Regions from separate parts of the Homo sapiens genome. Here all the other regions are linked to region 2. Evidence: fine-mapped expression QTL. A gene starts in region 2. Each other region holds a variant in brackets. All regions are shown on one strand. Distances are from middle to middle.

The links. PIP is the estimated chance that this variant, and not a neighbour inherited with it, causes the effect.
Region 1: its variant is the best candidate, but not a certain one, in a credible set for the expression of ACER3 in whole blood (INTERVAL, PIP 0.70).
Region 3: its variant is the best candidate, but not a certain one, in a credible set for the expression of ACER3 in whole blood (INTERVAL, PIP 0.86).

Annotation. Positions count from the first base shown.
Region 1 is chr11:77,025,436-77,036,301 of GRCh38, forward strand. ACER3-AS1 (ACER antisense RNA 1) reads right to left here and starts at 10,249. Exons shown (of 3, transcript XR_007062792.1): 1 at 10,133-10,249. ACER3 (alkaline ceramidase 3) reads left to right here. Exons shown (of 11, transcript NM_018367.7): 11 at 1-1,362. It overlaps B3GNT6 (UDP-GlcNAc:betaGal beta-1,3-N-acetylglucosaminyltransferase 6), which reads left to right and starts at 8,963. Exons shown (of 2, transcript NM_138706.5): 1 at 8,963-9,043. The variant A/G (reference allele first, on the strand shown) is at 5,828.
Region 2 is chr11:76,855,106-76,865,971 of GRCh38, forward strand. It overlaps ACER3 (alkaline ceramidase 3), which reads left to right and starts at 5,813. Exons shown (of 11, transcript NM_018367.7): 1 at 5,813-5,974. The coding sequence starts at 5,872. RefSeq lists silencers at 5,486-5,585, 5,626-5,885.
Region 3 is chr11:76,953,789-76,964,654 of GRCh38, forward strand. It overlaps ACER3 (alkaline ceramidase 3), which reads left to right. Exons shown (of 11, transcript NM_018367.7): 3 at 5,191-5,243. ACER3-AS1 (ACER antisense RNA 1) reads right to left here. Exons shown (of 3, transcript XR_007062792.1): 2 at 5,046-5,225; 3 at 1,758-1,797. Among named protein-coding and RNA genes, the nearest start is that of B3GNT6, 75 kb to the right of the region's middle. RefSeq lists a silencer at 9,333-9,392 and an enhancer at 9,614-10,813. The variant C/T (reference allele first, on the strand shown) is at 5,668.

The sequences.
Region 1 (10,866 bases), 170 kb after region 2:
CTCTCTCTGTCACCCACGCTGGAGTGCAGTGGCAGGATCTCAACTCATTGCAACCTCCGCCTCCCAAGGTTCAAGCGATTCTCCTGCCTCAGCCTCCCGAGTAGCTGGGACTACAGGCACATGCCACCATGCCACCATGCCTGGCTGATTTTTGTATTTTTAGTAGAGCTGGGTTGGCCAGGCTGGTCTTGAACTCCTGACCTCAAGTGATTCACCTGCCTTGGCCTCCCAAAGTCCTGGAATTACAGGCGTGAGCTACCGTGCCCAGCTGGTTTTTACATTTTAAAAACGTTTAGAGAAAGAAGAATATGCAACAGAAACTGTATGTAGCCTGCAAAGCCTAAAATGTTTACTCTCTGGCTTGGGAGTTTGTCTCCCCTGCTCTAGACTGTCAGCAAGTGGTACAGTGGTACAGTACAGTGGTACTGCCCAACTGCACTTCTCTGCAAGGTGATTCTAGTGTGCACTTGTCAGAATGAAAATATGTTATTCATTTAAGACATCTCATGTCTTTGAATGTAATCACATGATTTGTATTTAATATTTACATGACCTAATTATTTTTTCACGTCAGTTTTTCTAGATTGGCAATAGCCTGTTGCAAAGTGCCTAAACCTTTGAGAAAAATTACTATGAGCAAGGTCCATGATTTAGTTTTCAATATAAAGGGAATTCCATTCTATACTGTAAAATCCAAAAATGCTAGTTGCCCTCAGCTTTTGAGTTGACTTCCAGAAAGTTGAGATCTTTTGACCATTTTTTCTCATGTCATATAAAATGTGCCACATGGTAGTTGTCAAGCTGTGGTAGTCATGTACACTTTTTTTCTTTTTTTTAACTTTCTAAAAGGAAAAGTTCAAAGTCCTTTCCACAGTTAGTCTTCGCTTCTTTTGGATTTTTCTTTTTAGAGCTAAATTATTCATACCAATGAATAAGTGAGTCTGTTCTAAGATATAGGGGCCATTATCTATTTTTGCTTAATGGACTCATGTGGCATTGTTCACTATCATGCCTTTCCATACTTGTAATATTTCTGAGTCACTTATTAATGTGACCAACAGATAAACTGTTCAAGCTAATACAGCATTTCCTAACTTCATAGTTGTCGCAGATGTTTGTTCTAGTAGCGATTATTTAATAAACATACATTGTACTGAATCTTACTAGCAACTAACTATTTTCAGGTAATCTCAGTCTGCTTATTCACTTTTTCCATTTGATTTGCTAATGCCACAATCATTTTTCTAGAAAATAGTAGGATAATGTATTTTTTCCTGTCTGCTATAATGGAGACTATATTTCTGCATTCATTACCTCTCATAGGTGAAAATATTAAATTAAATAATATTGTTTTGAATAAGACTACTGGTAGTGTTTCATCCCTGATTTATATTTTTAAAATCTATACATTCATATAAAGGCAGGGCTACCGTGTGTAATTATAGAGTTTACGTACTACACAAAGGCACCCAGTTGAGAGAGGAAGGAGGGTGAATGAGAGGCTGAAATCTAGCCTGTGCTCAGCCTGCCAAAGATAGGGTTACATCTCAGAGGACACATCTTTTCCCAGTTTGCTTAAGCTGGCAGTATAGGCCAGCAGCAAGCCTCTTCATGGAAATGACATCCAGTCATTATCCTGGGAATTCTTTGTCACTGGGCTCCTAACACTGTACTGCAGTACCTTTCTACTCCAAACCTGAGTATGTTACAAGGTTAAAAGCTAATAATTTTTTAATTAAACATTTATATCTTTAAATACTCAGTATCTTCAACTTTAGGAGCTGTGAAGTAAACACGAACCATCCAGCTTCACACAATGAAGAGGGACAGATCAGGAACAGAAAAAATGGTCCTGCATAAGCCATGTGTGTCTGTGGTTTATAACTTTTAACTGAAGTACCATCTACAAGATATAAAACAAATTAGAATTTCCCATAACTCACCTAGTTCCTCAAACCACAGCTTTTCAAATATTAGCTTTCTTAGCCAAGCCTGCTGGAATGGGTGGTTTTAGTCATTGCTGACCATATGGTTGATTCTTCAGCTAGTCCCTCCTTTGTGTGTCAGGGTGGGGCAGCCTTGCCTGGATGAACAGATGGATGCTAGCAAGAGGCGAAACAGGAATCTTTACCTGACAAAACACAGACATGAGTGTGCAAAGCCATTTGGGCTGTGCTTTGTGAAGGGAATGGCTGAAAAGGAGTTTGGATGGCTTTATTTCACCCTGAACAGTACACACCCGCCTAAGAAAGGCATCTGTCATTTGATTTAGCAAATTTTATGAACTTACTCTGGGCTTCTCTCTAGTGCAGTTCTGGGGTGGCCTTTTCAGCTCTTTTTTTCTTTCTTTCGCCCTGGACTGGAATGCAGTCTAACTCAAGTGGGTCTTCTTAGGTGACAGAGAAAACACGACCTGTCTCACTTGACAGGGTGGCCTAGTCCCAAAGTAAGGCTTGATTCTCAAAGGAAATGAGAAAGCAGAAAATGGGGGGATCCATTTATTGAGCCCTACTATGTGCCATCCATTCAATAAACTGGAAGGTCTGTTTTAGGTGCTAGGAGTACAATGAAAAATAAGACAGATACCTGCCCTCATGGCACTTAGTGTCTCAAAAGTAATTTTGCCAATTACATTTGGGATGAGTGTCATGAGGAAGGGTATAGAGAGTTCTCGGAGGGAATACGAGGGAGCTGGAGTAGGGAAGACATCCCTGAAGATGAATATCTACACCAAGAACTGAAGAACGAGAGGTATTAAGGAAAGTAGGGGAAAGGCCCTTTACAGCACAGGGAGCCAGAGGTGAGTTTCTGGAGAGATGGACTGGAATGACATCACATAGGGCTTTGAAAGCCATCTTACAAATTTGAATTTGGTTGTCCTGGTGCGGTGGCTCATGCCTGTAATCCCAACACTTTGGAAGACCAAGGTGGGAGGACTGCTTGAGGCCAGGAGTTCAAGACCAGCCTGGGCAACACAACGAGACCCCATCTCTACAAAAAAAATTTAAGTAGCCAGGTGTGGTGGCACTCACCTGTAGTTCCAGCTACTCAGGAGGCTGAGGTGGGAGGATCGCTTGAATCCAGGAGTTCCAGGCTGCAGTGAGCTTAAATCAACTGCACTCCAGCCTGGACAATAGAAACATCACCTTTGAAAGAAAAAAAAAGAATTTGAATTTGGAAAGCTCTGGAAAAGATGGAGGATGGATTAAAGGGAGCCAGTATGGATGTAGGGATACTAGATAGAGGAAGAATGGTGGATAGTGGCAGTGGAGATACGAACTCCAATATATCAGAGGTACATGGGAAGAAGGTTTAGGGTATTATAGAGTACACTTGGGATTTGCAGAGTTTGTAGACTGTGTGAGACATCCTGGCAGAGAGCTTAAAGATAATAAATGTCGATCTGGAGCTCAGCTGAGAGATCTGGGCTGAAGATGTAAATTTAAGAATGATGGGTCCGGGCACGGTGGCTCACGCCTGCAATCCCGGCACTTTGAGAGGCCAAGGTGGGTGGATCACGAGGTCAGGAGTTCGAGACCAGCCTGACCAACATGGCGAAACCCCGTCTCTACTAAAAAAAAAATACAAAAATTAGCCAGGCATGGTGGCACGCGCCTATAATCCCAGCTACTCGGGAGGCTGAGGAAGGAGAATCGCTTGAACCCCAGAGGTGGAGGTTGCAGTGAGCTATCATGCCACTGTACTCCAGCTTGGGCAACAGAGCAAGACTCCATCTCAAAAAAAAAAAAAAAAAAAGAATCATGGACACACATATTAATTGAAATGGAAATGGATGAGATCAGGGAAGAAAAGAGGGTCTCAGACTGAGTCCTAGAGGGTCTCAGACTGAGTCCTAGAAACCAAACCATTTAAGGATTAGGTAGAGGAATTTTTAAAGACAGAGCATCTCAAACCAAAGAGAATCACCAGACACTTGGAAAGGAAGCCTATTTGAAGGCCTGGGTTCTAGTTCCTCAAAGTCTGGATGTCCATGGCTGGGCTGGAGGCACAGTGGCTGTCAGCAGAGAGAGCTACATGGCTGAGGGGTAGAAGGCAATAACTCTCACAAGACACTGCATTGAAACAGCAGGCTCCAAGCTGGAGCCCACTGGCATTAACCCTGAGAGGGTACTTACTGTTAGAAAAGTTATCTCCTTTTGGGGCATCTGAAGACCTAGCTTAGGATCCTGGTCCTCCACTGAAAAGCTGTGTTGTTGTGGCCAAGTCACAACTAAATTTTGGGTTCTATATCTGTTAAATGCAGGATTGTCTTAGGGGTTAGCACCACGGTGTAGTATGAATCTAATCATAACAGTTTCTGAATGGTATCTTTCCTATAAGATTGCTTGGCCTGGGCTTGTAGGGGTACCTCAAAACTGGACAGACGAGAGGAGTCAACCCCTCTTCCCTCTCTCACTGACCAGTGCAACCTGGAACAAGGGACTATCCGGCCTTCTCCCCTTCCTGGTCATCAGGTGCTGGCCTGTGCTCACAGAACCTGTTTGCCTTCGAGGTGGAGATGGGTTTTTCTGCCTTATCCCGCCCCTGTTTTTCAGACTAGGGTGTGGCAGAACATGCACTGGACTGAGACTTTTTCTGCTGATTAAAACACCCACCCATTGTAAACGGGAAGGCTGAAAAGGCGTCAGAAGTGCGTTAATTCCGTCTCTGAACAGCACATACCTTTCCAAAGCCACCCTTGGCACTCACACCCACTACATATGTCTCACTAAGTTCCTCCCTGGCCATTCCAGAAACCTCCTGGAGAGGTCAGAGCTGTTTGTCTTAAAGTCTGTTCATTTTATTCCAATAATCTTACCCCCATTTAACTTTCTCTCCACTTCAAATCTTTCCCAAATTTCCCGAAAGATGTATCTGCCAAGGAGAAAAGATAAGTTTTTAGGGGGCTTGAAGAAAAGTTAACAAAATTCATTTAGTCATTCAGTCCACCTGCTCTGGACTCTCATGAGTGGGGCACAGACAGGGAGGAAAGTGGTCATGTCCCTCCCTGGGGCTGCTCTCTTGCCCTCATTTGTTCTCAGATTTAATTAGTACCCCCAGCTCCTTATTTAGTCCTTCTCCCACCATGAAGTTGCCTGTGAGTCTTAGGGCTTTCCTAATCCTCTAGCTGTATCTCACCATCCCCATCAGAAACCTGCACTCGGTCCCTCCCCTTCTCTCTCTCTTCCTCCCACCTCTTTCCCCCTTCATTCTTCTCATCCAGGCACCTCCCCCAGGTAAATTAGTAAGAGGGACGAGGAGCCTGAGAGATGAGAGATGAACATTCTCACAGAATGTCCACTAAGTCACCAAGCTATGAGGATGCTGTTTGGAATGAAACTATTCACGTTTCTCTATTACCGTTAAGGTAGCTACTGTCTCCAGCAGGTTCCATGGCAAGGAAGGTGTGTTTCCCTTCCACCTCAGCCTCCCTTCCTGAGATTACGAGGATCCTAAACAGTTGACCACTCTTTGGGGGTGTGTTGCCCCTTGAGCCAGGCATGCTGTCCCTGTGACCTGGGGTCTTAGTAGTGGTCAGGACTGTATCGGCTATAAATGACGAAGTCCTGGTGTCCAGCCAGAGTGAGGCAGCCAGGACAGTGTAGCTCTACCTCCATCTCACTACTGAGAGACATGAGCTATCACGCTCTAGGACAGCAGCATTCCTCCCGAGTAACAGTCAGAAAGGGGTGATCCGACATTGGGCTCTCTGTGTCAGTGAGTGGAGACAGGGGAAAGGATCTAACTGTCCAGCCCTAGCCGCTGGTGGAGTCACTTCACCGGAGTCCCACAGCGCCTCCCAAGAGTCAGGGCTGCTGCCGCCAGC[A/G]CCTCCTTTGCTGCATTCCTTGCTGTGGTCGCTCCTGGTCCCCATCCCGACCCCTCAGATGTCAATTAGGGCACCCTGGAAAGAGAAGCAGCTGCCTGTGAATCCAGTATGCTGGAGGTCACTCCCAAAGTTTTTCCAGTAACAATTTGTAAGGTCAAAACAATAGGGGGCTACTTGATACCACCAAGAGTTTGTCAGGCAAACATTGAGAAAGAGAGAGAGAAGAGAGAGAGAGAGAGAGATCTTCCTATTTAGATACCTAGAAATGCTAGCCATTCTAAAATTTTTACTTAAAAGGAGAAAAAATGGACTGGTTATTTGGCAGTCGGGGCCATCCCAGAGAGCGCCTCCTTCCTAGAGACAGTGGGTCCCTTTCCTCCTTCCTCTTATCAACCAGAGGCTGAAATTAACACCCACAGCTTCTGCTGGCTAAAAGCCTCAAAAACAACAACAACAAAAATCAAACAAGAGAGACTAATGCTTTAGGCAGCTACAACTCCAAGAAAAGCAGAGAAACCTTATTTATTTATTTATTTATTTATTTATTTATTTATTTAACTCTGTTGACCAGGCCGGAGTGCAGTGGTGCTATCGTGGCTCACTGCAGCCTCAATCTTCCAGAATCAAGCAACCCTCCCACCTCAGCCTCCCAAATAGCTGGGACTGCAGGTGTGCATCACAACACCTGACTGATTTTTTTTTTTTTTTTTTTTTTTTTTGGTAGAGAAGAGGTTTTACTATGTTGCCCAGGCTGGTTGCAAACTACTGGGCTCAAGCAATTCACCCACTTGAGCTTCCTAAAGTGCTGGGATTATAGGTGTGAGCCACCATGACCAGCCTAGAACTTTAAACTTTAGGTACTGAGCAAACACCAAATCTAGGAAACATAATGCTAGCCTTAGATTACTTATTGATTTATGAACAAACCCCTAGATACAGAGGAAAATAAAAGGTATGTATAAATTATATATAAATAAATGTATATAATTTAAATATAAACTACATATAAAATAATGTATGTAAATAAATTATATACATATTTTAAAATAAATATAATAAATAGGCTGGGTGTGGGGGCTCACACCTGTAATCCCAACACTTTGGGAGGCTGAGGTGGGTGGATCACCTGAGGTCATGAGATTGAGACTGGCCTGGCCAACATGGAGAAACCCCATCTCTGCTAAAAATACAAAAATATTAGCTGGGTGTGGTGGTACATGCTTGTAATCCCAGCTACTCAGGAGGCTGAGGCAGGAGAATGGCTTGAACCCAGGAGGCGGAAGTTGCAGTGAGCCAAGATCAAGCCACTGCACTCCAGCCTGGGTGACAGAGCAAGACTCCGTCTCAAATAAATAAATAAATAAATATACATACATACATATATATATATATATATATATATATATATATATATATACACATACATACATACATATATATATATACATACATACATACATATATATATATACATACATACATACATATATATATATATGGCAAGCTGAATATATGCTATATTTTCCACAATTTGATTTAATTGGAAATTCAAGATTCCTAATTTATATACTAAAGAAGTTGTGTAACAAAAAGATTAAAAACAGCACTGATTGGTTTTTGCGCCTCTACAACATAGGTTCTAACTTAACATTTGTGAAAATGTACTAATTGTCAAAAATTCATGAACTTAATATTGGGGGTCAAAATATAATTATACCTGGGGATCCCACTAATTTACACACTCTGACCCTATAATCTTGAGAGGGTAACGACATATAACAGTTTTTAAATGCGTATGCCTCAATTTAAGTGTAGCCTTGCCTAAATTTCCCATGCTCATATACCCACTGCTATAAAATGTTTTCTATTGGACATAGATGCTTTGACAAAATAAATAATAAATTAGATTGGGCATGGTGGCTCATGCCTGTAATCCCAGCACTTAGGGAGACCAAGGCAGGAAGATCTCTTGAGCCCAGGAGTTCAAGACCAACCGGGGCAAAATGGCAAAACCCCATCTCAACAAAAAATACAAAAATTAACCATGTGTGATGATGTGTGCCTATAGTCCCAGCTACTCGGGAGGCTAAGATGGGAGGATCACCTGAGCCCAGGAGACTGAGGCTGCAGTGAGCCCTGATAGTGCCCCTGCACTCCAGCCTGGGAGACACAGTAAGACCCTGTTTCAATATTAATAATAATAATAAATTAAAGTGTCTCTTTGTCATTGGCTTGATAAAATGGGACCCCATGAGCCCCCATTTTATAGTTAATATGGCCCAATGTAAGTAGAAGCAGGCCCTTCAAGGATTAAAACTCATTATAAAAAACCTTAGTTTTAAAAAGGGTGATTATCCCCTACTACTTCTCCATTTAGCAGCCCAATTTTGCCTATGCTCAAATCTGGAAATATATATATATATATTTATGTATATACATTTTAATATAGATTTATATTTTTGAATATATTTATATATTTTAATATATAAATGTAATATAGATTTTATCTCTATTTTAAATATATAAATGTGTATATATGGTACCCTGTGATGGATCACTACAACTTAACATTGTGATCCCATCCATTAGGGCCCCATACCTAATATTAAAATTAAACTGATTTTATTCAATCAACAACAATAAATACTTTACTCTTACAGATGCGGCCAACCTGTTATTTCTGTGCCTATTTCCACAGCCCTTCAGGCAGTTTGCCTCTGCCTCTGAAGGCACACAATACACTTTTCCAGGCAACTTGCAGGGGGCCTCCACATGAGGGCCGTCATCACACACTGTCTTTACAGACAAGATGCACCTTCTCCAGGAGCACAGGTACGATACTGCACCTGGATTCCAGTGATTCTCCTGCCTCAGCCTCCCGAGTAGCTGGGATTACAGGCACCCACCACCATGCTCAGCTAATTTTTATATTTTTAGTAGAGAATCTCCTCCAAGGATATTCACTGGACCCACACTCTAAGGACATTTGAGCTTAAAGAGGAAGCAGGCAGTCACTGGTGGCTAAGGAAGCCTGTAGCTGCCCTCCCCCTCTTCACCTTACCCCTAAGGAGGAGGGGTGATGTCATGGATTGGTCAGATTCAAGAGAACTGAACCACAGGCCTGCGTGGAACCTCAGTGTGTGAAGTAAAGGGATTAAAGGCTAGTCTCAGGCTGGGGATGGCTCCTGTCTATTTCTTCTCTCTCAGAGACTGCAGGTAAGCTGGGGGCCTGGGCTTCTTCCTATTGGGAAGGAGGTACATTTTTCCTTCTTCGCATTCCCCTCTAATCAGAGTGCCAAGCAAGAAACAGGGGGAGGCCAAGGGGAGAGGAATGAGGACAGAATTGCCCCTATTGCACAGGTCCAGTGCAGACCCCAGGGCTCAGGGATTCATGCTGGGGGTTGGGGCCAAGGCCCTAATAGCTAATAAAAGGTTTCTTTGCCTTTTCTGCTATATGAATATTCTGCTATACGAATATTCCTCCAGGAATACCCTGGGATAGTATGGAATGGGTGGGTGGCCCAGGAATCTGTGTTCCAGCTAGCTATCTCAGCATCAAACCAGAGGAGGGAATGACCAAAGTAGTTCCTGGGAAAAGAAGAGGGACAATTCCTGGCCAGGCGAGATGGCTCATGCCTGTAATCCCAGCACTTTGGGAGGCCATGGCGGGTGGCTCACCTGAGGTCAGGAGTTCGAGACCAGCCTCGCAAACATGGTAAAACCTCATCTCTACTAAAAATATAAAAATTACCTGGGCATGGGGGTGGACGCCTGTAATCCCAGCTACTAGAGAGGCTGAGGCAGGAGAATCACTTGAACCCGGGAGCCTGAGGTTGCACTGAGTCGAGAAAAAGAAAAAGAAAGGGGAATTCTAGGCAGAGTGAATAGCATTGCAAAGGCAAGCAATAAATGGATGTGTTAATATGTGTGGGGCAATAAACAGAGTGAGAAATGCCTGCAGTTAGAGGATCACAGAGGAACTTTATAAAGCTTATAAAGAGGAACTTTATACCATACTGTGTGAGAAGGCTAGACTTCATCCATAAAAAGATGGTCTCCTGTGTTAGCCAACTGCTAATGTTATTCTGGTGCCTACTACATGCCAGGCATGGCTCTGAATGCCTTACATGAATTAACTCATATAATTCTGAGACACTGAGATAAAGGAGTTGCCCAAAGTCTCACAAACAAGGAACCTGAGGTTCAAAGGGATGGAGTAAGTGGCAGATTTGTCCTCTTTACCAAACTTGCTACTCAACAGCCATGACATCAACAAGGAGACAGGTTATGTTGACCTGGACTTACCGTGAGGTGAGCTGGAGGAGGTGGTATTTGAGCTGTGTCCTGAGAGACAAGGGATCAGGGCCAGCAGAGGCTGGCAAAGTTTAAGGTGCATGGGCTCCAGGATGCCTGATGAAAAAGAACCATAGAGAGAAATGCCCAATACTTCACAGCAAGTCAAAGCCCTCAGGCTGCACAGTGTGGCATCCAAGAACAGAGGTGAGCGAGCCAGCACCGCCCTTGGGAACAGGGCCTTGCCCAACACCTTTTCCTTTACATCAGAAGTTGGCTGTGATCCAAGATCTTCTATCCGTTTTATCAGAGTAAACGCAAACTTCTTTGAAACAAGATTTATTGTTACATTAAGAAGATTATTTTTCTTTCCAGAAATGATGGGGGATGCTTAACTTTTTTAACTAGTATTTGTGTAGCACGTTAACATAAACAGGATTCTCTCCTTATTTCATTGAAAAATGAATGTTAACTTTCTCAATTTTTCAAATGAGGATATTGAAACCTAGGAGATTAACTCAGGAAAGAAGCTGGGGCTCAAACTCAGTTATTCAGACTCCAAATTCTGTTTTCATTCATTTTTTTATTCTTTCATTCATTGAAAAAAAAATATTGCATTCCCCAAATGTGCCAGGCACAGGACTGCGCACTGAGTAGACAGTTGACGGTAAAAGAGACATAGCTTATCTCGCAAGCCCTCTTCTCACAGTGCCTCTAACACAGAAGCAGGAATAAGTGAAGAGCAA
Region 2 (10,866 bases):
AAAAAGAATTTTCAGTAGGAATCTAGTTGAAAGCTTTCAAAATTTGGGTTGTTAGTCGAAAATAAATATTGGCATTGGAAATAACCTAAATACCCAGTAGTAAGGGAATAGTAATATATCATAATTAAGTAAATTGTGATTTATTTATAAAATTGGATATGATGTAACTTCTTTTTTTTTTTTTTTTAGAAACAGGGACTCACTGTTGCCCAGGCTGGAGTGGAGTGGTGCATAATATGTCACTGTAACTTCAAACTCCTGGGCTCAGGCACCCTCTCGTCCCAGCCTTCTGAGTAGCTGGGACTACAGGCACACACCAACACACCCAGCTAATTTTTAAAATTTTTTGTAGAGGCAGGGTTTGGCTATGTTGCCCAGGCTGGTGTTGAACTCTTGAGCTCAAGAGATCCTCCCAGTTTGGCCTCCCAAAGTGCTGGGATTATAGGCATGATCCACTGCACCCTCCCTAATGTAACTATTAAAGTGATATTTATGAGTATTTTTAATAGCATGAGAAATGCTTATGAAAGAATATGAAATATAAAGATAAAAATAGCTCCATCATGTAAACAAATCATTAGATAAAATAACGGAAGAAAATGTACTTAAGTGTTGACAATGGACATTGCTAGTTGGTGGGATTGTAAGTGATTTCTTTTTTTATACTTTTTTTTTTTTGGTATTTTCTAAATTTTTCAACTTAAGAATGTATTGCTTTAAACAAAAGTTTTGGCCGGGTGCAATGGCTTATGCCTGCAATCTCAGCACTTTGGGAGGCCGAAGTGGGCAGATCACCTGAGGTCAGGAGTTCAAGACCAGCCTGGCCTACATGGTGAAACCTGGTCTCTGCTAAAAATACAAAATTAGCCAGGCGTGGTGGTGCACACCTGTAATCTCAGCTACTCAGGAGGCTGAAGCAGAGAATCACTTAAACCCAGGAAGCAGAGGTTGCAGTGAGCCGAGATCATACCATTGCACTCCAGCCTCAGCAAAAAGAATAAAACTCCATCTCAAAATAAAATAAAATAAAATAAAATAAAATAAAATAAAATAAAAAGTTTTAAGATGTAATTTACACACCATACATATTGGCCATTTAAAGTATACACTTCAGTGGGTTTTTTTTTTGGGCATGTCCACAGAGTTGTGTAACTATCACCACAATCTAATTTTAGAACACTTTCATCATCCCCCAAACTTACCCTATTCCCATTAACAGTCACCTCCTGTTCCTGCTCCCTTTCTCAGCCTTAGACAACCACTGATTTACTTTCTATCTCTTCAGATTTGCCTATTCTAGATGTTCCATATATTATAAATGGAATCACAATATGTGCCCCTTGGTGTCTGGCTTCTTTGATATGGCATAAAATTTTCAAGGTTCATCCATGTTGTAGCATGCACCAGTATTTCATTTCATTTCTTTTTATTGCAGAATAATATTTCATTGAATGTGTATATCACACTTATTAATCTATTCATCAGTTGATGGACATTTGGTGTGTTTCCACTTTTTGGCTACTGTGAATAATACTGCTATGATCATTCTTGTACAAGTTTTTGGTGGATATATGTTTTTAATTCTCTTGGTGTATACCTAGGAGTAAAACTGCTTAGGTCATATGATAACTCCATTTAGCATTCTGAGGAACTGAAAAAGTTCTCAAAGCTGCTGCACCATTTTACATACCAGCGATGTTTGAGGGTTCCACTTTCTCCACATGCTTGCCAACATTTGTTGTTATTTGTCTTTTTGATTATAGCCATCCTAGGTTGTCTGAAGCGGCATCTCACTGTGGTTTTGATTTGCATTTTTCTAATGGCTAATTATGTTGAACATCTTTTCTTTTTCCTTTTCTTTTGTTTTTTTTTTTGTGACGTAGTCTTGCTCTGTCGCCCAGGCTGGAGTGCAGCAGTGCAATCTCGGCTCACTGCAAGCTCCGCCTCCTGGGTTCACGCCATTCTCCTGCCTCAGCCTCCCGAGTAGCTGGGACTACAGGTGCCCACCACCACGCCCGGCGAATTTTTTGTGTTTTTAGTAGAGACGGGGTTTCACTGTGTTAGCCAGGATGGTCTCGATCTCCTGACCTCATGATCCGCCTGCCTCGGCCTCCCAAAGTGCTGGGATTACAGGCTTGAGCCACAGCGCCCGGCTATGTTGAACATCTTTTCATGTTTTTATTGATCATTTGTATATCTTCCTTGGAGAAATGTCTATTCAGATCCTTTACTCATTCTTTAATAGGGTTATTGGGAGTTACTTGTCTTCTAATTATTGAATTACAAGTTCTTTATATATTCTGGACACAAGTCTCATATAAGATATATGATTTGCAAATAATTTCTTTCATTCTGTGGGTTGTCTTTTCACTTTCTTGATGGTATCATTTTCAGCAAAGGAGTTTTTAATTTTGATGAAGTCCAATTTATCTATTTTTCCCTTTGTCGCTTGTGTTTTTGGTGTTTTATATAAGAAACCATTGCCTACCCAAGGTTACAAATATTTATTTTTATGTAAACTTCTAAGAATTGTATAGTTTTGGCTCTTACATTTAGGTCTATGATCTATTTTGAGTTGAATTTTGTTTATTGTAACAGGAAGCATTCTAATTTCATTCTTTTGCATGTGGATATCCAGTTGTCCCAGCACCATTTGTTGAAAGACTATTCAATCCCTATTGAATTGTCTTGGCATCCTTGTTAAAAATCAATTGACCATAAATGTAAGGGTTTATTGCTGGACTCTCAATTCGATTCCTTTGATCTACATGTCTATCTTCATGCCAGTACTGCACTGTCTTCATTACTATAGTTTTACAGTAAGTGTTGAAATCAGGAAGTATAAGTCCTCCAGCTTTGTTCTTCTTTTTTGAGATAGTTTTGACTTGTCTGGGTCCCTTACATTTCCAGGCATTGCTTTTATGCTCAAGGGGGGAAATTTTTTAGAAAAAAAGAAAAAGGAAGGTAGATATTGCTGAAGGAACTGTGAAATTCATTTTGTGTTTTCTGAGTGAAACTTCTGCAATGCACCTTTTCTCTCGGATGGGGGAATTTCTCTCTCCTAAAATCCGTCCTGGTCACGGTAGATTTCCTTTTTCACTATTGAGGAACATTGTGCAGAGTATTGACTCAGCCAAGGCCTCATCCTGCCTTGAGTCACTTGGCTGGGTCAGGGGTTATTTTCACATAGGGGGTTCCACAACACCCTAATTTTTTTTTTACTCCTAGCTAAGAATGATCATACTCTATTGTTGTGGTCTCTGCACTGTTCTGATTGCACACCTCATCGGCAAATCACTTTTGCGTATGAGTTTTTGCATATTCATTTTGAGCATATAAATATATAAATATTTCATTCATTTATAAATTATATATGCTCATGATTATTACATAAACACATAAACAAAACGGAAGTTTTAGAATATGAGATAAAGTGACTAGAAATAGATGTTTCCCCACACCTCAATGGCTTTTATCTCTCTGGAGACGGCCTTCTTGGATCTTTCATGTTTACCTCTGTGTGGTCCTAGCACCCAGGCAGCCAAACAGGGCCTGGTATATAGTAGAAGCTCAATGACATTCAAAATAAAAATTTCAGGCCAGGCAGGGTGTAACTCAGGCCTGTAATCCCAGGACTTTCGGAGGCCAAGGAGGGTGGATCACTCAAGGTCAGGAGTTCAAGACTGGCCTGGCCAACATGGTGAAATCTCGTCTCTATTAAAAATACAAAAATTAGCCAGGTGTGGTGGCAGCCTCCTGTAATCCCAGCTATGGGGATGAGGGGGTACTGAGGCACGATTCCCGGAAGGCAGAAGTTGCAGCGAGCCAAGATGGCACCACTGCACTCCAGCCTGGGCGACAGATCGAGATTCTGTCTCAAAAAAGAAAAATTTCAGAGAGGCTACTATTCGTATTAAAATACACTGCTTCCGGCCGGGTGCGATGGCTCACGCCTGTAATCCCAGCACTTTGGGAGGCCGAGGCGGGTGAATCACGAGGTCAAGAGATCGAGGCCAGCCTGGCCAACAAGGTGAAACCCTGTCTCTACTAAAAATACAAAAATTAGCTGGGCGTGGTGGTGCACACCTGTAGTCCCAGCTACTCTGGAGGCTGAGACAGGAGAATCGCTTAAACCCAGGGGGCGGAAGTTGCGGTGAGCTGAGATCATGCCAGTGCATTCCAGCCTGGCCGACAGAGCAAGACTGTCTCAAAAAAAAAAAAAAAAAAAAAAAAAGATACACTGCTTCCCTAGGTTTTGCACCTAGCAAATAAAAGTTCTGCATCTATTTCCTGCTAATTGGCTATGGTTATTTTGTAGAAAGGCTGTGGGCTCTTCATCTCTCCTTGTCCTCTCTTTTACCTTTGACTTGCACCACATCTGACTTATTTATTTAGAAAATAGCAGTTGTATCATCCTTCATTTTTACTCTTCATTTCTTACTGTGTATTCAGGCAGAGTCCTAATACTAAGACCATAAAGAAGGGAAAGCAAGGTCTCTGATCAGGATGTAGCACAGTAGGATGTGAACAAAGGGCAAGGAAGCTCTAGGGTGTAAACATCTGGGATGGCTTCAGAGAGCTGGATTTTAAAAGAAGAGTGGGGAGTTGGTCAAACGGAGAAGAGAGTTAGGCTGTCCCAGTTGAACTGTGGGAGCAAAGGCAGGTGACCCAGCGCATTCTAGGAGAGGGGAAAGTTTGAGTTTGGTGTAGCTGAACACTAGGGGCAAGGGTGGTTGCATCTGTTTTAGGAAGAGCTCTCTGGCAGACCTGTGGAGTACTAGACTTTTTATTTATTTATTTATTTATTTATTTATTTATTTATTTAGAGACAGGGTCTCGCTCTGTTCTCCCAGGCTGGATTGGCACAGTCTCAGCTCACTGCATGCAATCTCCACCGCGGGGGCTCAAGTGATCCTCCCACCTCAGCTTCTCAAGTAGCTGGGACCACACGTCTGAGCCACCGCGCCCAGCTAATTTTTGTATTTTTCGTAGACACGGGGTTTTGCCGTCTACGATACTCCCAGACGGGGGCTGGGAGTATTAGACTTGAAGTTGGAAGTAGGGGTAGGCTGTTGGTTGCCTGAAGAGCAGGGCACAATTATAGTTAGAACGTGGAAACCTCTGTGCTTGGAGGCCCAAACGAAGCAGGGAAACTTTGCTTTAGTGCTCTAGCTAGCAGCATTCTTTTTTTTTAGGATCTCAGAACCTACTTTTTTTTTTTCGGTCCTGGGTTGTTCACCCTTTCCCTTTGTACCGAAGAGACACTTACACCTTTATCAGAAAATCACGGTTTATTTCCTGAGAATCACGGGGATTGGTTGGGGGTACTCTGTTTTGGGGCTCCATTTGAGGCCTGTGGCTCAATGGAAGACATAGAGGCGCTTCGCCGCACAGGTTTAATCAAGCAAGGGCTTGATAGAAGTATTCATCCCACCCCCGCCCCGATTAAATCAAACCACACGCACACAAATAGAGGCTCTGGCACATCCTGACAGAATATAGCCTCTGGGATGTCAGGAACCCCCAACCTACGGCCATTGGCGTGTCTGCACCGGCCAGGAAGCCCAGGCCCCCGGCTCCTTCCTGGATCACGCCCCTGCCCCGCCCAAGGGTGAAGAGGGGCGGGGCCAGCCGGCGCCCTCCGAGTGGGCCTTACACCAGGTCGGGCCTGGCCCGGCCCCGCGGCCCAGCGGCGCCGGTGGGCGGGGCCTCCGTCAGGGCAGTGTCAGTAACGGCGCCAGGCCCCGCCCCTCGGGGAGGCAGGGCCGGGCGGGGCGCGAGCGAGCGCGCGGGCTGGGCCGGAGCCGGCCTGGTCGCCAGCCTAACCCGGCACAGTGAGCGGAGCGCCTGGGCGGCGGCGGCGGCGGCGTGATGGCTCCGGCCGCGGACCGAGAGGGCTACTGGGGCCCCACGACCTCCACGCTGGACTGGTGCGAGGAGAACTACTCCGTGACCTGGTACATCGCCGAGTTCTGTGAGTGTGGCCTGAGGAGGGGAGTGGGGGCGAGAGGGCACCGGGCTGAGGAGACGCCGTGTGAGGAAGGCAAAGAGCGAACCTGGCCGCGAAGGGAGGTGCCAGGCCTGGCCCCGGGAGCTGGAATGCGGCGCCCTGGGCCAGCGGGAGGCTGAGAGGAGCGGGCCGGGAGTCCAGTGTGTAGAGGGAGGAGTACCGGGGTCTGGGAGGGAGGAAGGGGGCCTGAGGATTGGGGGGGCAGAAGAGCAGTGGGAAGTGGGGAGCCCCTGCTGGACCTAAGGGGGAAAGCCTGAAGAGCCGGGTTGGGAATGGGAATTCCTGCCCGAGAGCGGAGTGGGGCCAGGCTGGGAGAGTGGAGGACCCTGCCCCTTGGAATGAGGGCCCAGGACACCTGCTCTGCTGTTGCCACCACCAGAAGGGTACAGTTCCTAGCTTCGTCTTTCCCCCAATCCGTGAGAATTCTACCGTCTTTCCCTTCCCTTTTCACTGGAATATTAGACCTCCTTGCTCACCTCCAGGGAACAGTTTCACTAGTCTGAGATCTGAACCATCCCACCCCTATCCCCCAGGATGTCTTCAAGTACCAGAGGTCATCTGCTCTCTGAGTATGATTATTCAACTGTCATCTTGCACCAGGAGTCGAAGGCATCTTGCACCTAGCCTGTACCTTCTGCCCCTGCCAGGCTCCCAAGAGCACAGAGGACCAAGTCCCTGCTCCATTCTGTCCTATCCAACTATCTAGGAGTTAGGGGTCATCTGAGGACACTACTTCCACCGACTGCACCTTCTGAGGATTTAAGCATTCTTCTTTAGCGGCTGCTCTGTCAGGCACTGCTGGTCAGGTTGGGCTTGTTCTGTGTGCCTATGTGGGTGTCTGTCTGTTTTCCTAGACGATTTTTCCTGCCAGGCTAGGAGAAATCTGCCACTTCTTTTTCTATCATTTAATCAGGTTTTGAGAGCACAATATTTGATCCTTCTTTTAGGTACCTGCTTCTGGCAAAGTGCAAAGACTATCCTTTGGCTAATGATTACTGCCTTCTTTTAGTTGGATCTACTTCTCAGGACGTGAAGTGAAACTCTTCTTAGCTAACCTTCTCATTGTTGAGTCCTGTTCTCAGGCATCTGTGCATGGCTTTGTAGGAAAGAGGCAAGCATATCATGACAAATGGTCCCACTTTATTCTGTTCTGGTAATTGGCTAAGTTTCAAAAAAAAAAAAAAAGAACACTTTTTGCAGTTTTCAGGACTTTAGTACTATTCTCTTATGACCATGATTTAGGCTAAGAGTCACTTTTCTTCAACTATTAAATTAATAATTTTTACATAATCATGGAGAAATATTGGCAAAGGGATCATTTGTAATACAATTACTTGGGAACCCACATGTTGGCAAAGGAAGCGCTTTACCAGTTTGTTGTTAGATCACTTTGGCAAGCCCATGCCTGGTCCAGAGAACCATGACCACGAGGAAAGAGATGTAAAACCATGCACTCTGCGCTGGAAATGTGTAACATGGAAAAGAGGAATTCAAGAGTCTTCAAATATTGGATGGGCTATCATATAGAATAATTTTTTTTTAATTTATTTGGAATCTGGAATTAGGGCATATGGGCAGAAACTAACTGTAATGGGGAAAAGTTTGCTTCAATATAAGGAAAAACCTTCTCACCAATGATATGGGAAAGGTTGACTTGGGGGACAGAGGACTTTCTGTCACTGAAAGTGTTAAATCAGACATTGTTCAATGAACTCAATATTTTCGAAGGAAAAAATTATTTAATAGAGAAAAGGGGCTGGCCTTAGTTGCAGCTTTATGGGTCTATGTAGGTAATAATGACTCTTAGTTTAGAACCAAGAAAAAACTGGGCTGGGCATCGTGGCCCATGCCTGTAATCCCAGCACTTTGGGAGGCCAAGGCAGGAGGACTGCTTGAGGCCAGGAGTTTGAGTCCAGCCTGGGCAACATAGTGAGACCCTGTCTCCATAAAAAATAAAAAAAATTAGATATGCATGGTGGTTTGTGCCTGTAGTCCCAGCTACTTAGGAGACTGAGGTGGGAAGATCACTTGAGCCCAGGAGTTCAAGGTTGCTGTGAGCTGTAATTATGCCACTGCACTCCAGCCTGGGCAAGAGTTAGACCCTATTTCTACAAAAAAAATATAAAAAATGCAAAGAGAGAAAACTGGCGGTAAGTCATGTGGACTCTGAGAGAGCAAGATACTGTGTTCTGGCAGATAGCTCTGAGAAATGGGAAATGACATTTGTTCTCAATGTGCTCAGAAGAGGAAACTCTGAGCAGACTGCAGGGAGGGTTTTGACATAGGAATCAGAGGGGTTGCAAGAAGAGGATGAGTGAATGTTTGCAGCCCTTTGCGCATGCACCTTGGGAGAAAATCATCTGGAGGAAGTTGAGGTCAAGTCATCTTACCATAGCAAGTCATGAGTATCTACAGTAATATATCTTGGACTAAGATAATTTGATCTTTGAAAAATATGCTGATTAATAATAATATGTTTAAAATATGTGTTTAAAGCAAGTGCAATATTAACATCACGATAGTATTTACATTAACAATAGTATTGATGGTAATATTAAGGATAATGTAATAATAGCTATTATCTAAGTGGTCACTTGTACTACACTTTGCTAAGCACTTCATATATCTTATCTCTTTTGATCTTTACAGTAATTTCAAAAAGAAGGTATTATTATCCCCATTTCAAAGATAAGGAGATTGAAGTTCTAAGAAATAATTTACCTAAGATTACAGTAAGTGATGTAGAGATAGTGTTCACATTGAAGTCTGACTCTAAAGCTACTATCCATGTTACCTCTCCATCATTACTTCTATCACACATTCATTGTTTTGCCCCTATATTCAAGAAAGGAAGACAGATATGAAATACTATGCTATCACACAGGACAAATTGAACAACTATTCAGTTTACTCAACCATCTTTCAACTATCTTTCAGCATTAGAATATATGTATTTTAGGGAATAATGAAGTGTTTGGGGAATTGCATATTCAGATATGGCAGTAGTTCTCAGTCACTTTCAGCACCCGAAAACTGTCTTCCTAGCATCAGCCAAGATCAGTTTAAATTCCTTTTGTTTGAGCATATTGTAAAGACCAGAGGAAAAGGTCTCTCATTGTGAAATAATAAGCCCCTTGACCTGCCAGAAGTTAGAGGTACAGGCAGTCCTTGCTTTGCATCATAGTGTGGGACCACACAAATGACTGTGCAAGTTAAAACCAGGTAACACTATGTTAATAATCAATGGGAAAAGTTATGATTGTTCTGTGATCTTTAAAACTTTTTGTCAAACATTGTAAACTCTCTTACTGTTGGTTATGAATATGTAGGGAAATGAAAAAAGTAAGCATATTTATTTAGTATACTTTAAAACATTAAAAACATTGAGAAATAAACTATTTTGTTTATAAAAATCACTTATCAAGAGTAATTAAAACAGTGCTTGCCTTTTTGTCACATAACTCATAATATGGAATGGGTATTTTTTTTTTTTTTTTTTTTTGAGGTAGAGTCTCGCTCTGTTGCCTAGGCTGGAATGCAGTGTCGCGATCTCGGCTCACTGCAACCTCCACCCCCTGGGTTCAAGCAGTTCTCCTGCCTCAGCCTCCCAAGTAGCTGGGATTACAGGCGCATGCCACCACGCCTGGCTAATTTTTGTATTTTTAGTGGAGACGGGGTTTCACCATTTTGGCCAGGCTGGTCTCGAACTCCTGACCTCAAGTGATCCACCTGTTCAGCCTCCCAAAGTGCTGGGATTACAGGCGTGAACTTCCATGCCCAGTTGTCTTTTTTCTTTTAAATTAATTTTTTTTTTTTTTTTTTTTTAGCCAGCTACAGCTACACTAATGAGGGCCAACAGGTTTTTGGATTTTTCTTGAGACAAGGTCTCCCTCTGTTGCTTAGGCTGGAGTGCAGTGGCACAATCACAGCTCACTGCAGCCTCGACCTCCCAGGCTCAAGTGATCCTGCCACCTCAGTACCCCATAGCTGGGACTACAGGCGTGTGCCACCATGCCCAGCTAATTTTTTTTTTTTTTTTTTGGATTTTTAGTAGAGACAGGGTTTTGCCATGTTGCCCAAGCTGGTCTCAAACTCCTGAGCTCAAGCAGTCCTCCCACCTCAGCCTCCCAAAGTGTTGAGAATATAGGCATGAGCCACCATGCCCAGCCGGGATGAGTACTATCCCTTCATGAATTCTTTTCTAATTTGTATCAGCTTCCAAAATTTATCCTTTGCACTTTTAAGATTGTGAAATCTCTCCAAGAGTTCCTTTAATGCAAAGTTTTTTTTGTTAGCATAATTTCTCCTGGGACATCTTTATCCTTTTCACCACAACTACTTTATGCATTTACGTTGATAAGTTTGCCTTCTCTTTCTCTGAATTCCTCAGATTGCATTTTTTTTTTTTTTCCAGACGGAATCTCGCTCTGTCACCCAGGCTGGAGTGCAGTGGCGCAATCTTGGCTCACTGCAACCTCCAGCTCCTGGGTTCAAGCAATTCTCGTGCCTCAGCCACCCACATAACTGGGATTACAGGAGTGCACCACCATGCCCAGCTAATTTTTGTATTTGTAGTAGAGACGGGGTTTCACCATGTTGGCCAGGCTGGTCTCAAATGCCTGACCTGCAGTGATTCACCTGCCTTGGCCTCCCAAAGTGCTGGGATTACAGGTGTGAGCCACCTTGCCCAGCATCTTTTTTTTTTTTTTTTTCTTTTTTGAGACGAAGTCTCATTCTGTCGCCCAGGCTGGAGTGCAGCGGCGTGATCTTGGCTCACTGCAACCTGTGCCTCCTGGGCTCAAGCAATCCTCCCAGCTCAGGCTCCCAAGTAGCTGGGAGGCACGCACCACCATACC
Region 3 (10,866 bases), 99 kb after region 2:
CTTTAGACATTTTCCTGCCTTGTAACCCAAGTGATATTTTTAAAATGCAAAACTGATTATATCAATTCCTATGTGTATGTGTCATTTTTTAACAACTGTACTTTCTCCTTAGGATAAAGTCCAAATCTGAATCAGATTTTAACATCGCTTTAAAAGTTCTTTTTTTTTTTTTTTTTGAGATGGAGTTTCACTCTTGTCGCCCAGGCTAGAGTGCAATGGCGCAATCTTGGCTTACCACAACCTCCGCCACCCAGGTTCAAGCGATTCTCCTGCCTCAGCCTCCCAAGTAGTTGGGATTACAGGCTTGCACCACCACGCCCAGCTAATTTTGTATTTTTAGTAGAGACAGGGTTTCACCATGTTGGTCAGGCTGGTCTCGAACTCCCGACCTCAGGTGATCCACCCACCTCGGCCTCCCAAAGTGCTGGGATTATAGGTGTGAGCCACCACACCTGGCCTAAAAGTTCTTCTTAATCTATTTTCTATAAACCATGCATGCGAGTTTCATCATTGGATCCCTACACCAAGTTGTTCATGGCTTAAGCCAAACTCTTTTAGTTCTTCAAATGCACAAACTCTGTCTTTATTCTAGATGACTCTTCTACATAGAATGATCTCATTTTTAAAAAAATTCTTTCATCTGGCTAATTTCAATTTATTCTTCAAATTCTAGCTTAAATATTACTTCCTCAGACAGCCCTCTTTTGACCCCCTAGACGAGGTAATAACATTATTCTTTGCATTGATTCTCATAGCTCTATAACTCCCCTTTTTTATGTTTTTTTGTTTAGTGGTTTGGTTGGTTTTTTTTTTTGTTTTTTGCTTTTTTTTTGACAAGATTTCACTCTGTCACCCAGGCTGGAGTGCAGTGGCACAATCATGGCTTACTGCAGCTTCAACCTCCCAGGCTCAAGTGATCCTCCCACCTCAGCCTCCCAAGTAGCTGTGACTACAGGACTATGCCATCACACCCAGTTAACCTTCTGTATGCTTTGTAGAGACAAAGATTCTCCATGTTGGGCAGGCTGGTCTCAAACTCCTGAGCTCAAGGGATCTACCCACCTTGGCCTCCCAAAGTCCTGGGTTTACAGGTGTGAGTCACCATACCCGGCCCCCTTTTTGTATTTTTAATGGTTTGTTTAAAGTTCTGAGACAGGAACCATATTTCTCTTGTACACTCACTTATCCCAGTGGAAATGCTTGGAGTATTAAGTACACAGTAAATATTTATTGAAAACAAATGGTGTCCTCGTTAAGGAAATACTAATCAAAATGATAATGAAATACCACTTCACATCCATTAGGATGGCTGTAATCACAAAGACAGCCAGTGATAAATATTGGCAAGATGTGGAGAAATTAGTATATTGCTGATAGGAATGTAAGATGGTACAGACACTCCAAAAAACACTTCCTCAAAATACTAAACCATGTGACCCAGAAATCTCACTCCAAAGTATATATGAATGAATGAAATAAAAACATATGTCCACATAAAAACTTGTATATGAGTGTTCACATATACAATATGTGAAATACAATATGTTCATAATAGTGAAAATGTAGAAACAACCTAAATGTCTTTTTTAGCTCAGGCTGCCGTAACAAAATACCATAGACTGGGTGGCTTAAGCAACATACATTTATTTCTCACAGTTCTGGAGGCTTGGAAGTCCAAGATCAAGGTGGCATTTAATTTGGTTCCTGGTGAGGAACCAAAACCAAAAAACGTCTCCTTCCTGGCTTGCAGATGGTCACTTTCTTGCTGTGTCTCACATGGCCTTTCCTCTGTCTGTGCTGTGGAAAGAGAAGAAGCAAGCTTCAGTGTCTTACTCTTATAAGGGCACTAATGCCATCCTGGGGATGCCACGCCCATATGACCTCATCCAAACCTAATTAACTCCCAAAGGTCTCACCTCCAGATACCATCACATTAGGGGCTAGAGCTTCAACATATGAACTGGGGAGTTGGGGAGGCAGGCATAGAAACATTCAGTACATAGCAATGTCCATCACCTGATGAATGGATAAGTAAAATATGGTATGTTCATATAATGGAATATTATTATTCGTCCATAAAAAGGATGAATCACTGATGCATGTGATGACATAAATGAACCTTGGAAACATTATGCTTAAGGAAGAGAAGCTAGACATAAAAGACTACATGATGTATGATTCCACTTAGATGTAATGTCCCCAGCAGGCAAATCTGTACAGACAAAGTAGACTAATGATTGCCCAGGGCTGGAGGGGTTGAGAGAAAATGGAAAATGACTGCTAATGGGTATAGGCTTTCTTTTAGGGGTGATGAAAATGTTCTAAAATTAGGTTGAGGTGATGTTTGCACACCTCTGAATATACTGAAAACAATTGAATTGTATACTTTGGATTGATTTTATGTGAATTATATCTCAAGAAACCTGATAAACAGCAAAACTTGGTGGTTTGCTTTAAAGGGGCAAAATACAAAATATTGCATAGAGAATGCTGTTCTATTACATGTTTTTGGACTCTAAATGTCTAGAAATGTCAGTTGCAGGAGAGCACTTTTTAAAAGAAAGGAAAATAACAAAGAAAAAAGAGGAGTAAACCTAGTGCTACCCTCTCCTGAAAGGAATTTGAAACCTCTGAGTAGCCACCAGAATAGATTTTCATCAGAATACTTTTTTATGTGTTACCCAGATTGTTGAAAGGAAATAAACTGTAGAGATCTCTAAAAAGTCAGATGTTTAATGGCTCTGTGAGCAAAAGCAGGGAAAAAAATCAGACTTTTAATGCTATATAATTTAACAGTATCAAGAGAACACTTTGAAAAGGTTTTGATAAAAACAGTCCTTGAGTAAGGCATGATAAAGTGGCCATTCTACCAAGATGAACAATCATCCCATCTCACTTTTTTTTTTTTTTTACTTCATAGTATATTGTTATTGTGTGACTTTAAATAACTTAAAGGTTTTTTTTTTCCTTTACATTGAATAATTTATCCACCTTTGTACCTTCTAATTACTTTTTTGGGAAAAAAGGCACGAACCACCCCACTTCCTTATTTCTCTAATGAGATGAGTGCAATAACTATCTTATTTCCCTCCTTTCATTTTGAGGAGTAAAAATTACAATCTAGTGATTTTTTTAAAGGCAAGAATAACATATAGTTTGAAATTTTTCTCAGGTGGCTTCATACAAATTATTTAATGACGCCCCTACTCACTACATTTGTTGGGCTAAGTCCTATGTATCCTTAAGTTTAATCTGTACCATCATTCTTGCATTCTTGGATTTCCTTCACAAGTGTTCCTTCTCTGTGCTTCTGTGGTACTCAACGCATATGTCCATGTGCAGGCACCTTCTGTTTATCTGCCTGTCTCTTCCATTAGACTATATGTTTCATTAAGGCCAATGACTGGATCTTATCTTTGTACCTCAGCATCTATAACTGAATTTGGCAAATAGGATGCACTCAGTAAATTCTGAACTAAACTGAATCAGAAAAAAAAGCTTTATTAGATGTTATAAGGGCTGATACTTGATCAGTTAATTTTTTTAAGTTGAAGCATAGAATTTTTTAAATTTTGGATATTAAACCTTTGATATATTGAAGCACAGAATTATTGAATACATATATACATGAAGTTTAATTTTTAACTTTTTGTGTGTGTGTTTTTTCATTTTTGAGATGGAGTCTCACTCTGTCGCCGAGGCTGAAGTGCAGTGGCACAATCTCGGCTCACTGCAACCTCCATTTCCCAGGTTTACGCGATCCTTCTGCCTCAGCCTCCCAAGTAGCTGGGACTACAGGTGTGTATCACCATGTCTGGCTAATTTTTATATTTTTAGTAGAGATGGGGTTTCACCATGTTGACCAGGCTGATCTCGAACTCCTGACCTCAGGTGATCTGTCTGCCTCAGCCTCCAAAGTGCTGGGATTACAGGTGTGAGCCACCGGGCTGGGCCTGAAGTTTTATTTTTGTTGTATATAATCTTTGACAATTACTTAACATAGGGCATGACCATTGAATGAGAGACCCTAATTTTAGTTCTACTTACTCTTTGCTTTAAAAACCAAACATTTTATAAAACGCTAAAATGAAAATAGTTTATTTAAAATGGAGGCACTTGGGAAGAACTTAGGACATGAACACAGAATCTTTTTATTTTTTAATTTTATTATTATTATCTTATGTATTAATAGAGATAAGGTCTCACTATGTTGCCCAGGCTGGTCTTGAACTTCTGAGTTCAAGCGATCCTCTGGCCTTAGCCTCCCAAAGTGCTGGGATTACAAGCCTGAGCCACTGTGCCCTGCCTACAGAATCTTTTTAGATTTTTACTATTTTTCCCAGTCTGTAACAGATATCCAACCACACCTAATTCAACATGATTTTTATTAGCAACTTTTTTTTTTTTTTTTTTTTGAGACAGAGTTTTGCTCTTGTTGCCCGGGCTGGAGTGCAGTGGCACAGTCTCAGCTCACTGCAACCTCCTTCTTCTGGGTTCAAACGATTCTCTTGCCTCAGCCTCCCGAGTAGCTGGTATTACGGGGGCCTGCCACCATGACCAGCTAATTTTTGTATTTTTAGTAGAGACGGGGTTTCACCATGTTGGCCAGGCTGGTCTTGAACTCCTGACCTTAGATGGTCCACCCACCTCAACCTCCCAAAGTGCTGGGATTACAGGCGCGAGCCACTGTGTCCGGCCAGCAACTCATTTTTATTAAGTCTACTTTAAGCATTTTAAATAGTTCTTGGAGAAGCAACAACTCTTTTTGCAGTCATAGCTCTGATAACCAAATACAATGGCATCAACAAGTTCAGGAACAAACTGACTGGCTCTTAGTAAGCATACACCTTAGCCATTTGGGTCAGAAGTGCAAAGGAGTAGCTAACCAGCTATGTGCATTAAAACTTATCCTGAGCATCAGATAATACATTTTACAGAAATAATGGAATATTGTTAGTCTAGTAAGTCACTTAGTAGAGGGAATTTAGGAGAACTTATATTGTACTTCTTTTCTACACCAAAATTTCACCAATTATAGCACTTACTCAAGAGTCAGCTATATCTTGCCACTAGATTTTATAAACTTCATTATCCTTAACTCAATGCTTTGAAATGTCTTATTGTCTTCTCAGGTCACTGTCCACGCACAAAGAATTTCATGCTAATTTTTTTTCATTTGTTTAATTTCAGTGGTAGGAATGGGATCCTGGTGCTTCCACATGACTCTGAAATATGAAATGCAGGTTAGTAATGATGAAATTGACAAATGCTTATTTCTCTTAATTCAGAAGTACTTCAGATTTGAGAAAAGAGCACATAACTATGGCTAAAAGATGGGATTTGTAATCTCTGGAGTTTTTTACTTCAAGTCTGAGGATCCAAACTGACTAAGTGAAGTAAAGAAATAAGCAGGTGAGTCCATAAGGAAAACAAGTACAAATAGTATAGGGCTTTTTGACCATCTCTGTGCGGGCATATAAAATTGAGAGCAGCATTAGAGAGCAGAGTCACATGGGGACATCTTAAAAAGACATAATCAGTTCACCAGAACAATATATTCTTATTCTGAGATACCTGCATTCTTTCATGGCTGTATGGCATCCATTTGAATAGTCTGAGTCCCTCTATGTAGCAAGACTTTAAAGCAAGCTTGTCCAACCTGTGGGC[C/T]GCATGTGACCCAGGATGGCTTTGAATGCAGCCCAATACAAATTCATAAACTTTCTTAAAACATTATAAGGTTTTTTTTTGCAATTTATTTTTATTTTTATTTTTCATTTTTTTGAGTCAAAGTTTTGCTCTTATTGCCCAGGCTGGAGTGCAGTGGTGCAATCTTGGCTCACTGCAACCTCTGCCTCCCAGGTTCAAGCAATTCTCCTGCCTCAGCCTCCCAAGTAGCTAGGACTACAGGCACCCACCACCAAGCCCGGCTAATTTTTTATATTTTTAGTAGAGACGGGGTTTCAACATGTTGGCCAGGCTGGTCTCGAACTCCTGACCTCAGGTGATCCGCCTGCCTCAGCCTCCCAAAATGCTGAGATTACAAGCATGAGCCACCGCACCCGGCCGTTAGTGTTAATTTTATGTGTGGCTCAGGGAAGCCAAAAGATTGGACACCCCTGCAGAGCTAGCCAAGGATTTTTAGTTTCCATCCTTACTCTGAGGAGGGCATATATGTCAAGTCCTCAGTCTTTTGATCTCTTGATTTCCCATCACTAATCCAGAAACTTCTAGAACAGTAGTACAAGTAAAATCTGAGCTACATTTGTAATTTAAATTTTTCTAGTAGCTACATTGAAAAAAAGTACACAGAAATGGGTGAAAATAATAATATATTTTATTTGGCTGGGCGCGGTGGCTCATGCCTGTAATCCCAGCACTTTGAGAGGCGGAGGTGGGTGGATCACGAGGTCAGGAGATTGAGACCATCCTGGCCAACATGTGGAAACCCCGTCTCTACTAAAAATACAAAAATTAGCTGGGTGTGGTGGTGTGCACCTGTAATCCCAGCTACCCGGGAAGCTGAGACAGGAGAATCTCTTGAGCCTGGGAGGCGGAGATCGCAGTAAGCCAAGATCACGCCACTGCACTCCAGCCTGGCGACAGAGCAAGACTCTGTCTCAAATAATAATAATAATCATAATAAATTTTATTTAACCCAGTATATCTAAAATACTACTTCTCTCTCTATATATAATCAATATAAAAAATTATGAATAAAGTATTTCATATTCTTAAATCTGGTTATTATACCTGCAATATATTTTTAGTTCAGATTAGGCTTATTTCAAGTGCTCAGTAGCCACATTGGAGTGTCAAAACCTGAGTGTGGCTTATAGGATAGCCACATGGGGTGGGGACCATCCATCACAGAACTCTGGGACCTCAGCCAGTTAAAGAGAGTGTCAACATAGGGGGATAGTCCAGTGTAGGGTGTCAGAGCCTAACTAGGAGTGAGGAGGGTATTTGCACATCAAGGCAGCCCAGGGACAGTGTATTAGAGACCAGGGTTGAAAAGGTATCCATGCAAAGGGGACAGCTCAGTGCAGAATAAGAAGGGTGTCCTCCCAAGTTGGGGGGGTCATTTGACATGCGGTTGGAATCTGAGTGGGATGGAGAGAGTGCCACATAGTGGGGACAGCTTTGTGCCATGTTTTGGTACCCTGGGAAGGTGAGAGTGACTTCTACATGGCAGAGTGGCCCAGTGCAGGATCTGAGAGCACAAGCAGAGTCGAGAGGCTGTCTAAGTGGAGGTGCAGCAGCAGCCCAGCACCAAGTGTTGGAGCCTGAATTGAGTGAGAAGGGCATTGCTTGGGAAAAGGAGAGGTAGCAATGGAAGCCATGTTGCATACAGGGTAATTAATCAAATAAATAAATACATTAAGGAGAATGGGAGCCAGGTTTCTTACTGTTAGAGAACAAAAGTCGCAAATACGGAAAAGATGAAAACTAGAATGAGCTCTGTGGTGACAAACTGAAATTGGAGTTAACAGTGCAGACTCCTATGTTCAATACATACATATATAATAGACATAAATATAGATGTGAAAATATGTGATATGCATATGTATGTATTTTGTGTATATGTATACATACTTAAATATTTTAATACACATATATATACATACATTCTCAAGCTCTGTCCATGAGAGGATCTGGGAATGGGGAACTTCAAAGCCAAAGAATATACCTAGCATCCAGATCTTGTTTTCTAAAAATCATTCTTCTTTAAAAGGAACCAGGGCTGATTCCAAGGGCTGGGGCAGAAAAAAAAAAAAGGACAATATCAGCCTAGATCATCTTTTTATGCCAGAAAAAATGGAAAGGCTCAAAAAATTATGGGAATATGTCAAAAGGACACTGAAGCCAACTTGAAGAGGTTCCTGCTGGCCAAATATGGGGCAATTTGAGCATCAAAATAAATGGTAATGGGTTATAATAGTTATAATGTAACCCGATGAGTAATATGGGAAATCTGAGTCCATACTAGATAATAAATGATGTATTAAATGAAATAATACATGAGTATAAATAAATGAATAAAGAAAAAGTTTGATGTTAAAGAGTATATTTACATAGTTTCAAAGTACCTTTCCACAAAATACTTAAAAAGGGGAGAAAGAATACCTTTACAGTGGAGAAGCCAAGTGGGAAACACCTTAATCAAGCAACCTAATCATCACTAATGGGACAAATCAAAATTATATGTGTTAATGGAAAAACTAAACCCTGTCAAATATCTTTATTTTATTATTTTTAATTTTTATTATTATTATTTTTTGAGATGGAGTTTCACCCTTGTCACTTAGGCTGGCATGCAGTGGTGTAATCTTGGCTCACGGCAACCTCTGCCTCCCAGGTTCAAGTGATTCTCCTGCCTCAGCCTCCCGAGTAGCTGGGGTTACAGGCGTGCACCACCATGCCCAGCTAATTTTTTTTTTTTTTTTTTGAGATGGAGTCTCACTCTGTCGCCCAGAGTGACACTGGAATGTAGTGTGATCTCGGCTCACTGCAACCTCTGCCTCCCAGGTTCAAGCGATTCTCCTGCCTCAGCCTCCTGAGTAGCTGGGGTTATAAGCACCCGCCACCATGCCTCGCTAATTTTTGTATTTTTAGTAGAGACGGGGTTTCACCACATTGGCCAGGCTGGTCTTGAACTCTTGACCTCAGATGATCCACCCACCTGGCCTCCCAAAGTGCTGGGAATACAGGCGTGAGCCACTGTGCCTGGCCTGTCAAGTATTTTTTAAAGGTTTATTCTGAGCCAATATTAGTGACCATGGCATGGTGTGATACTGGTGGGCTGGGGGAAGTCCCCAAACAGCAGTGGACCTCTATCCTAGCCAATGTCTAGGCTCTTGGCACCATCACAAGAATGAATTCAAGGACAAGTCGAAAAATAATGAAAGTAAAGAAATTTATTGCAAAGAGTAAAAGTACACACTCAAGGGAGTGCAGGTGTACTTGAGAGAGTGTCATGCAGTGGGGTTTGGGGCTGCTACCTTTATGTGTTTCTCTAACCAAGGAATGGAATATTCATGAAAATTCCTGGAAAAAGGTAGAGATTTATCAGAACTGTGGTGCCACCCAATAGGTGTTCCTGGAACTGTCATAGTGAGGGAGAAGAAAAGGAAAAATTAGTTAGGTAAACGGTTAAGGCTGGTCCTTGGAAAAGCTGCCTGCCTGAAAAATCACAGCTACAGGCAAGATAGAGCAGCTTGGAGAAAAACTCAGACTGTAGAAGCTGCCTGCCTGAAAAATCGCAGCTACAGTGCACCTGCACAGATAAGCCACAGATAAGCAGGCAAGGCAGGAAAAGTCCAGCATAGAAGCCTTTTGCTCTTTGTATGATTAGCGAGCTCCCAGGAAGTTTCCTCCCCTTTTCAGACATGTACACAGTGGGCCCCATGGAAACTTGCAGAGGGAGGAGGGGGGCTTACTTTAAACAAAACCACAATTATACAAACAAAAAGTTTCACTTTATGCTTACCTAGAGACATACCCACAACTACATAAAGGGAAGTTATGCATAGATAAGTTTCTCAAACACTTACAGACATGAGAGCAGTTTCTTGTGAAAGCTTTTCAATTCAGCTTTTCTTCTTTTGCTTATTAAACTTTTCCTCCAACCTCATTCTTTGGGTCCACACTCCTTAATTTTCTTGAGACCACAAGCTCGGATAACACATTAGACAACGAGACCAGTGACCCTGACCTATTTCAATGGTGCTGCTGGGTTTGTGGTTTAGTATGTTAATGAGCATATAATGAGGTCCTAGGTGAAACCTCGGTCAAATCCAGTGACATGCTGGATCCAATCGGTCTTAGCCAGCTTGGTCCACACCCTGTTTTTCAGGATCTTACCAGCCCAAAGACTCTAAGTCATGTGAAATTGCTGCCTGGAATTTCTTCTCCACCCTGTATTATTCCTATCTCAGGACAATAGAGTCTCAAGAGGTCCTTTGATTTCCTTGTCATGTGATGCTATACCAAAGTCAGGTTGAAAAGTAAGCCACATTATGCTGCGTTAAGAAAAGAAACCTGGTCAAGTAGCCAAGATGGCCAAATAGGAACAGCTCCAGTCTACAACTCTCGGCGTTAGCGACACAGAAGACGGGTGACTTCTGCATTTCCAACTGAGGTACCGGGTTCATCTCACTGGGGAGTGCCGGACATTGGGTGCAGGTCAGTGGGTGCAGTGCATGTGCGTGAGCCAAAGCAGGGCGAGGCATCGCCTCACCCAGGAAGTGCAAGGGGTCAGGGAATTCCCTTTCCTAGTCAAAGAAAGGGGTGACCGATGGCACCTGGAAAATCAGGTCACTCCCACCCTAATACTGCACTTTCCCAATGGGCTTAACAAACCGCACACCAGGAGATTATATCCCGCACCTGGCTCGGAGGGTCCTACGCCCACGGAGCCTCTCTCACTGCTAGCACAGCAGTCTGAGATCAAATTGCAAGGCAGCAGTGAGGCTGGGGGAGGGGCGCCTGCCATTGCCGAGGCTTGAGTAGGTAAACAAAGCGGCCGGGAAGCTCGAACTGGATGAAGCCCACCACAGCTCAAGGAGGCCTGCCTGCCTCTATAGGCTCCACCTCTGGGGGCAGGGAACAGACAAACAAAAGGCAGCAGTAACCTCTGCAGACTTAAATGTCCCTGTCTGACAGCTTTGAAGAGAGTAGTGGTTCTCCCAGCATGAAGCTTGAGATCTGAGAACGGGCAGACTGCCTCCTCAAGTGGGTCCCTGACCCCCGAGTAGCCTAACTGGGAGGCACCCCCCAGTAGGGGTGGACTGACACCTCACACGGCTGGGTACTCTTCTGAGACAAAACTTCCAGAGGAATGATGAGGCAGCAGCATTTGCGGTTCAC